Regions from separate parts of the Homo sapiens genome. Here region 2 is linked to region 1. Evidence: fine-mapped expression QTL. A gene starts in region 1. The other region holds a variant in brackets. All regions are shown on one strand. Distances are from middle to middle. Region 1 holds the start of LINC01762 (long intergenic non-protein coding RNA 1762). Region 2 overlaps CD58 (CD58 molecule).

Region 1 (4,398 bases):
TTTTTATTAGTGAATGGCTTAGCTCCTCAGCTGGACCATAAACTTCTCAAGGGAACATGCTGTGCCCTTATCTTTGTGTGCCTGCATGACAGCACACAGCCAGCATGCAAACCATGACCTCATATGCACTTAACACTTGACTATATCTCTTTGGCGACTAGACTCTACTCCTTTGGACAGGGACTTCTTAATTCTGTATTTCTGAATGGCCTAGTGCTGGCTGTGACACAGGGTAGTTATATAATTGATGGTGTTGATTTGAATTGTCCAGTTTGAATAAAGAATTTTCTAAATGAGTCGACATTATGACACAATGGATATAGATGAGACCATTAATGCATTTGAAATTTACACTAGTGGACACATGATGGTAGATGCTATAGATACAGGAACCCATGCAAATTCCAACTTTGAGAAACTAGTAACCTATTTCGAAATTATACCTTCTCCTGTTCTTCATGGGCAAAGATGATCCAAGCATGGAGGACATGACATTTAAGCCTTCTTCCCAGTGTAAGGGATGTGCCTTCAGCTAAATTTTTCTCTCAGTCAACATTTATGGGCACCTACTGTGTGTTAGGCACTGTACTATGGGCTGAGTATTCAAAGAAAAACTAGGCACAGGTGAATCGTAAATGGAGAGCTACGGGTCTAGTGGGGCTGAAGGCACTTTCTCAAGGAACTCATGGCACTGAAATAGCTGCTGCTTGAGAAGTATGGCCTAAGCTCCATGGGAGTGAGAAGGGATGAATTCTTCCTGGGGCCAGGAAGGGAGGATGAAATCAGGAAAGGCCTCCCAGAGGAGCAGATGTTTGAAGGATGGACAAATCCAGATGGACAATAGAGTATGTATTCTAGGCTGGAGGGTATTAACCAAAGCATGGAACCCCCTCAGTTCTTTGGGAGGAGAACAGTCTCCTCTGCTCTCACTGTAGCTGGTGGCTTGATTGCTGACCAAGGTCAGGGTGACACCTTTGGCCAAAGAATGGGGCATTTGCTTCTAAGTCAGCCAAGGGCTCTTTCTGTCTGAAAATAGCTGCCTGAATTCATTTCCCCAATTAGTCCCAGAGGCCAAAGATAGGAGCAGGCTTTCTCCACCAGCAGGGCAGAAACTGCAGCTAGAAAGCCGGCCCTGCAGCATGAGGAACCCCTGGGGAGCTGGCAGGAGACCTTGAGGTCTGACCGGCTGTGTTTGGATGGACCCTCTCTAGCTCTTTCCCCGTCATGTGACTGAAAACCTTATCATAATGAAAGCTGTAAAAATGCCAAACTTTAACCTTATTAAAGTCACACTGTTCTGGTCTTGGCAACCATAATAGGATTTTACAACTCAACCTCTCTGACTAGAGTCCTTGAACAGCCCAGGGTCTGTCAGGGTCCGTGATGGGTGACTTAATGCCTTCAGGGACTGGTGCCCACCCACATTCCCACCCTCCCTGTGTCCATCCACCACCCGTGCTCACCGTGGCCTTCCATATGGCCTCCTGTTTTGTTACTCATAGAAATGGAGAAATTTCCACTACCATGGACCCCAGGAAAAACATATGAGCATACCCTACAGCACTTACCAGCTGACATGGTATTTTCCTCCGGATTAATGAAGCACAGTGGAATTTTAGCAGTTGCTGTAATGATTAATATGTCAAATCCATATTGCAGGAGAGGGAAACAGGAAAGCGATGTGAGAACCTAGGAGGGGGGAGGAAAAACAATGGGAAGGGAAGAGAGGTAGCAAAGCCAAAGAAGGACAGGGAAGGAAGAGAAGAACAAGGGAAGGACAGGGCAAAGTGGGGAGAGAGGAACACGGACTCCCACAGGGGTTGGATCAAACAGGCTCGAGCACATTTAGGGACTTCCTCCTGCCACATTGGTAGGAAGGTGGGTCAAGTCAGTTCCTGAGGAGAGGTCTCCCAGGAGCAGTTATTAGCATAAGGTTCTACATGTCGGGAGGTCATGGACCTTGAAGATTTGAGGAAAGGTATGGGGTTTATCCCTAGAAAAAAAATACACATAAAGGGGTTTACTAAGCCCCTAAACCTCCATGAGAAAACACAAAAATGAAAAAACCCTGGGTTCAGCTGACGGTGTTTCTGGAGCTGGGACTGTGTCATCCCTGTCAGCATCCCCTCTCCATGTGATGCCTTTCAGAAACAAGTTTGGAAAGATGACAATGGCGTCAGCCACAATACACATTCTGTTTGCTGAGCCTCTGTCTTGCCCTGTGAGCGCCCACCCTCTCCTCCCCACCTGCAGGCCCACCGCCATGCAGCTCCCAGGATGAGGTCATGCTTACTCACAGGGTCCCTTCCTCCAACTCTAGGCAGTCCAGTGCCCCTACATGAAGTGGTGTCCATGCTGTGCGTGAACATGCTCCGCAGTCTTGAGACCATTACACGGCTGGACAAAGGAATGCCTGGCCAAGCCACCAATGGGAAATACTTTGCAATGCAAATGAGTCCTCCAAAGCCAAGCATTCCCCTCTCCTGCTAATTACTTTTACCTGGTTGCATTAGAAATCCTGGCCAACATGGTGAAACCCCGTCTCTTCTAAAAGTACAAAAATTAGTCAGGCATAGTGGCACACGCCTGTAGTCCCAGCTACTCGGGAGGCTGAGGCAGGAGAATCACTTGAACCCAGGAGGCAGAGGTTGCAGTGAGCCAAGATCGCGCCATTGCACTGCAGCCTGGTGACAGAGTGAGACTCCATCTCAAAAAAAAAAAAAGAATGGCTTCATATTCTGTATAGTCAGGAGCTGGCTCAATGTTAATGTCATTGTCTCTCCTGAAATCACCTGTCAGTGCAAGAGACCTCTGAATTTCCTTTCTTATTTCTTGATCTAAGCATGTATATAGTGTCATGGGCCAGGTTAATTAAAGCTCACTGAATATCACATACTATCCTCTGAACAATCATACGTGTTGCTTCTTTAAAAGCAGGAAAGAAAAAATCAGGTTCTATATGGCCTACCAAGCTTAAATCGTCTCTGTGATGGGAACTGTACAAAAGTCAACAGGTCAACAACAAACACTAGTTTACATACTCAGTAGGTGAAAGAGTGAGCCAATTCATAGATTTCATTTCTGATTGTATTTTTTAACATTTTATTTTCAAAGAATTATAAATCCACAGAAGGTTGCTAAAAGGTGGAAACAACTCAAATGTCCATCGATGGATAAATGGATAAATGTGGTACAGTGGTCCCCCCTTATCCTGGGGGGATACATTCCAGGATCCCCCAGTGGATACCTGAAACTGTGGATAGTACCGAACCCAACTGCTGTCAGTGGGAACACATTTCTGTTCACATATTCCACCTACAATTTAACGCCTTTTCCAGCTTAACTAAACACTTACCAGTATTGTGGTCGTAACTTGCGGTTTGAGGTGTGACAGCAAAACTAGCACGAATTTCTTTTTTCCCTTCACAATTTCACAGATAGAAGATTCATTCCTAACTATAGATCTTAGCAGCCTCAGCATATCATTTTTTTTCTTTCCTGAAGCCGAGAATTTTCACCTTTTCACTTAAAGGAAGCACTTTATGGTTTCTCTTTGGTATATTTGAGTTGCCAGCATCACTACACTTGTGCTTTGGGGCCATTATTAAGTAAAATAAGGGTTACTTGAACACAAGCACTGCGATACTGGGGCAGACAACCTGGCAACAAAGATGGCTATTAAGTCACTACTGGGTGGAGAGTGTAGACAGAGTGGACACGATGGGCAAAGGGAGGGTTCATGCCCTTAGCAGGATTCAGCAAGATTTTATTATACCTCTCAGAACTACTCACAGTTCAAAAGGTATGAATTGTTTATTTCTGGAATTTTTCATTTAATATTTTTGTATTGCTGTTGACTGTGGGTAATTGAAACTAAGGAAAGTAAAATTGTGGATAAGCAGGGATGGGCTACTATACATACAGATAATGGAATAGTATTCAGCCTTAAAAAGGAAGGAAATTCTGATATGTTTCTATGACATGGATGAACCCTGAAGACACTATGCTAAGAGAAATAAGCCAGTTACACAAAGATAAAAACTCTGTGATTCCACTTAGATGAGGCACTTATACGAGTAGTCAAATTCAAAGAGACGAAAATTTGAATGGTGTCTGTCAGGGGCTGGGAGGTGAGGGGAATGAGGAGTTGTTTCATTGGTATGAACTTTCAGTATGGGAAGATATAAAAAGTCCTCTGGAGATGGATGGTGGTGTTTGTTGCATAATAATGTGAATATATTTAAAGCCAACAAACTGCGCCTGTAAAAATAGTTACAATGGTACATTTTATGTTATGTATATTTTACCACAATCAAAAATTGACAAGAAAGTCCCACAGACACTTCACTAGGCCAATCCAGTGTAACAGCTTGCATGACTATAATACATTATCAAAAC
Region 2 (4,398 bases), 86 kb after region 1:
CAAGGTGAGATTTGGGTGGGGACACAGCCAAACCATATCATTCCACCCCGGCCCCTCCCAAATCTCATGTCCTCACATTTCAAAACACAATAATGCCCTTCCAACAGTCCCTCAAAATCTTAACTTATTCCAGCATTAATCCAAAAGTCTAAATCCAAAGTCTCATCGGAGATAAGGCAAGTACCTTCCACCTATGAGCCTGTAAAATCAAAGGCAAGTTAGTTACTTCCTAGATACAATGGGGGTACAGGTGCTGAGTAAATATATCCATTCCAAATGGGAGAAATTGTCCAAAACAAAAGGGCTACAGGCCCCATGCAAGTCCTAAATCCAATAGGGCAGTCTTAAACCTTAAAGTTCCAAAATGATCTCCTTTGACTCCATGCCTCACATCCAGGTGACGCAAGAGATGGGCTCCCACAACCTTGGGCAGCTCTTCCCCTGTGGCTTTGCAGGGTACAGCCATCCTCCTGGCTGCTTTCATGAGCTGGCATTAAGTGTCTGTGGCTTTTCCAGGTACACGGTGCAAGCTCTCGGTGGATCTACCATTCCGGGGTCTGGTGGATGATGGCCCTCTTCTCACAGCTCCACTAGGCGGTGCCCCAGTGGGGACTCTGTGTGGGGGCTCCAACTCCACATTTCCCTTCCACACTGCCCTAGCAGAGGTTCTCCATGAGGGTCCCACTCCTGCAGCAAACTTCTGCCTGGACATCCAGGCATTTCCATACATCCTCTGAAATCTAGGCAGAGGTTCTCAAACCTCAATTCTTGACTTCTGTGCATCCACAGGCCCAACACCACATGTAAGCCACCAAGGCTTACCCTCTGAAGCAACAGCCTGAGTGGTATGTTGGCCCCTTTTAGCCATGGCTGGAGCTAAAACAGCTGGCATGCAGGGCTCCATGTTTGGAGGCTGCAAAGAGCAGGGGGGCCCTGGGTCCAGCCCATGAAACAATTTTTCCCTCCAAGGCCTCCAGGCCTGTGATAGGAGGGGCTGCCATGAAGGTTTCTGATATGCCCTGGAGACATTTTCCCCATTGTCTTCGTGATTAACATTTGGCTCCTCATTACTTAATGCAAATTTCTGCAGCTGGCTTGAATTTTTCCTCAGAAAAGGGGTTTTTCTTTTCTATTGCATCATTGGGCTGCAAATTTTTTGAACTTTTATGCCCTGCTATCCTTTTAAACATAAGTTCCAATTCCAAACCACATCTTTGTGAACATATAAAACTGAATGCTTTTAACAGCAACCAAGCCACCTCTTGAATGCTTTGCTGCTTAGAAATTTCTTCCACCAGATGCCCTAAATAATTTCTCTCAAGTTCAAAGTTCCACGTATCTTTAGGGCACAGGCAAAATGCTGCCAGTCTCTTTGCTAAAACATATTAAGAGTCACCTTTATTCCAGTTCCCAACAATTGTTCCTCATCTCCATCTGAGATGAGCAGCATTTGGTCAAAGCCATTCAACAAGTCTCTAGGAAGTTCCAAACTTTCCCACATCTTCCTGTCTTCTTCTGAGTCTTCCAAACTATTCCAATCCCTGCCTGTTACCCAGTTCCAAAGTTGCTTCCACATTTTCAGGTATCTTTGCAGCAGTGCCCCACTACCCAGTACCAATTTACTATATTAGTCCATTCTCATGCTGCTAATAAAGACATACCCAAGACTGGGTAATTTATAAAGGAAAGAAGTTCAATGAACTCACAGTTCCACCTGGCCAGGGAGGCCCCACAATCATGGCAGAATGCAAAGGAGAAGTAAGGCACATCTTACATGGCAGTAGGCAAGAGAGAGCTTGTGCAGGGGAATCCCCATTTATAAAATCATCAAATATTGTGAGACTTATTCACTATCTGAGAACAGTATGGGGGAAACTGCCCTTATGATTCAATTATCTCCACCTAGCCCTGCCCTTGACATATGGGGATTATTACAATTCAACGTAAGATTTGGGTGGGAACACAGAGCCAAACCATATCATGGGGTTTCAGCATGTTGCTTAGGATGGTCTCGAACTCCTGGGCTCAAAAGATCTGCCCACCTCAGCCTCTCAGTGCTAGGATTACAGGCATGCACCACCACTCTCAGCCAAGTTCATACTTTTGAGTTCTTGCTACTTGCCCAGCACTATCCAGGCCCTATCCACATGTCATTCCACTAATGCAAGCCCACACCAAATCCTGCCAGCTCCACCTTCAAAACACATCCAGATATCTCCCACCCCCAGTGATTCCTTTC[C/A]TGCATTGCCCCTGCAGCCTAACCAACCTCCCTGCTCTTCCTTTTCTCTCCTCTACAGACTATTCATCCAGCAGCCAGAATAATTCTTTTAAACATCCAAGTCATCATAATTTCACTCCTGTTCAAAATCCTTCAAAACTTTCCAGTCACTGAAAGCAAAAAGGCCAAAATATTTAAAAGGCCCTAAAAACTTTATCTACAGGATCCAACCCTGACTACTTTTATAACTTCATTTTCTACCACTCTCCACCACAATGGTATCCTTGAAGTTTCTTAAACGCTTGAAGCCTATCTCAGGGTCCTGAGTAGTAGACCTGGAATATCACTCCCCCAGATAGCCTTGTGGCCTATCTCTCACTTCCTTAAGTGTATGATCAATTGTCACCCTATTAAAGAGACCCTCCCTGACCACACTATGTAATACTAACCAGCAGAGGGTAGCTGAATGAACTACCATATAGCCACCCTATGAGGGACTGTACAGCTGTGAAAAAGAATGAGGTGGATCTCTATGAAGTGATAGGGAATGATTTTCCAGATGTATGGTTAAGTGACAAAAATGAGATACAAAAAAATACATAGAGTGTTACCTTGTTTAAGAAGGGTAGTTAGAAAAAAAAAAAAGAATCCAAATAACTTTTTTTTGTTTTGTTTTGTTTTTTTGTTTTTTTTTTTTGAGACAGAGTCTCACTCCGTCACCCAGGCTGGAGTGCAGTGTTGTAATCTTGGCTCACTGCAGTCTCTGCCTCCTGGTTCAGGCCATTCTCCTGCCTCAGCCTCCTAGGTAGCTGGAATTACAGGCGTGTGCCACCATGCCCAGCTAATTTTTTGTTTTAGTAGAGACAGGGTTTCACTGCGTTAGCCAGGATGGTCTCAATCTCCTGACCTTGTGATCCGCCCGCCTTGGCCTCCCAAAGTGCTGGGATTACAGTCATGAGTCACTGCACCCGGCCAGAATCCAAGTAACTTTTGAATATAGTATTGCATATTCACTGGGATATACAGATATTTCTTATTATGGAGTTATATCTTGAAAAACTCATTGTAGAGTTGAAAAATCTTAAGTCGAACCATTGCTAAGTTGGAGACTGTAATGAAAAATAAAAGGAACTGTAAAGAAATCTTTAACTGTATTTAGTAAGTTTGTAGTTGGTAGTAGATTGGTATAGCAACTGTAAAATGATTTGGGGTTTAATGTAGATTAGGAAAATATACTGATGCTACTAAGAACAGAGTTCTCACTGTGGGAGTAAGGAGATGCAAATATGGAAGAGCAGAAGAGGCAGAAGAACTAAGCAGCAAGATTATTAGTGTTAGAAGTATCAGGGTGAACTCCTGACTTTGTAAAAACTCTATTTCTTAACTTTGAAAACTGACAAGGCTGAGAAGCAATGACTCTGGTACCTGTGGGCACACTTTGCACCCAGAACTTGATTTCTAAATACCATCTCTCACTAAAAGAAACCAGGGAACCTAATGATTCGAAGGCTGAGGCAGGAACACTACAAGATGAGTCCAGAACATCTTTCTGTGCCAGAAAGTAAGGAAGTGTTTAAAATCAAACAGGAACAAACAGAGCAAAAGGACTCTGAAGCTTGAAGGTGTTCCCACTTGTCAAATGTGGGGTTGCCGAGCATCAAAATGGATGACAGGAATGCCATATTTAAAAAAGAATCCATGAGTCCACATAACCTTCTAAAATAAAAGAAAAAAAGGGAGGATGTGTGTGCAAAAGCTATCCATTACTGAACAATGTAAACTAATAAATATATATATAGAGAGAAACAGAAGAGAAAATTGCTGGGTGGCTCATGCCTATAATCCCGACACTTTGGGAAACTGACTTGGGAGGATTGCTTGAGCCCAGGAGTTCAAGACCAGCCTGGGCAACATGGCAAAACCCCGTCTCTATAAAAAATACAAAAAAATTAGGTGGACGTGAAGGCATGTCCCTGTAGTCCCAGCTATTTGGAAACTGAGGTGGGAGGATCGCTTGAGTCTGGGAGATCAAGGCTGCAGTGAGCCATAATTGTGTCACTATACTCTAGCCTGGGCAACAGAGTGAGACTGTGTCTCAAAAGAAAAGAGAAAAGGCAATGAAACAAAGAAGGAAAGAAGGGAAGGGAAGGGAAGGGAAGGGAAGGGACAGGAAGGGAGGG

Evidence for each region. PIP is the estimated chance that this variant, and not a neighbour inherited with it, causes the effect.
Region 2: its variant is fine-mapped to the expression of LINC01762 in whole blood (TOPMed, PIP 0.99).

Annotation. Positions count from the first base shown.
Region 1 is chr1:116,476,484-116,480,881 of GRCh38, forward strand. LINC01762 (long intergenic non-protein coding RNA 1762) reads right to left here and starts at 2,343. Exons shown (of 4, transcript NR_125972.1): 1 at 2,298-2,343; 2 at 1,569-1,689. It overlaps LOC112268235 (a long non-coding RNA gene), which reads left to right and starts at 2,739. Exons shown (of 2, transcript XR_002958352.2): 1 at 2,739-4,398. RefSeq lists an enhancer at 1,788-2,347.
Region 2 is chr1:116,562,825-116,567,222 of GRCh38, forward strand. The region is part of intron 1 of CD58 (CD58 molecule); the gene reads right to left. Among named protein-coding and RNA genes, the nearest start is that of MIR548AC, 4.9 kb to the left of the region's middle. The variant C/A (reference allele first, on the strand shown) is at 2,240.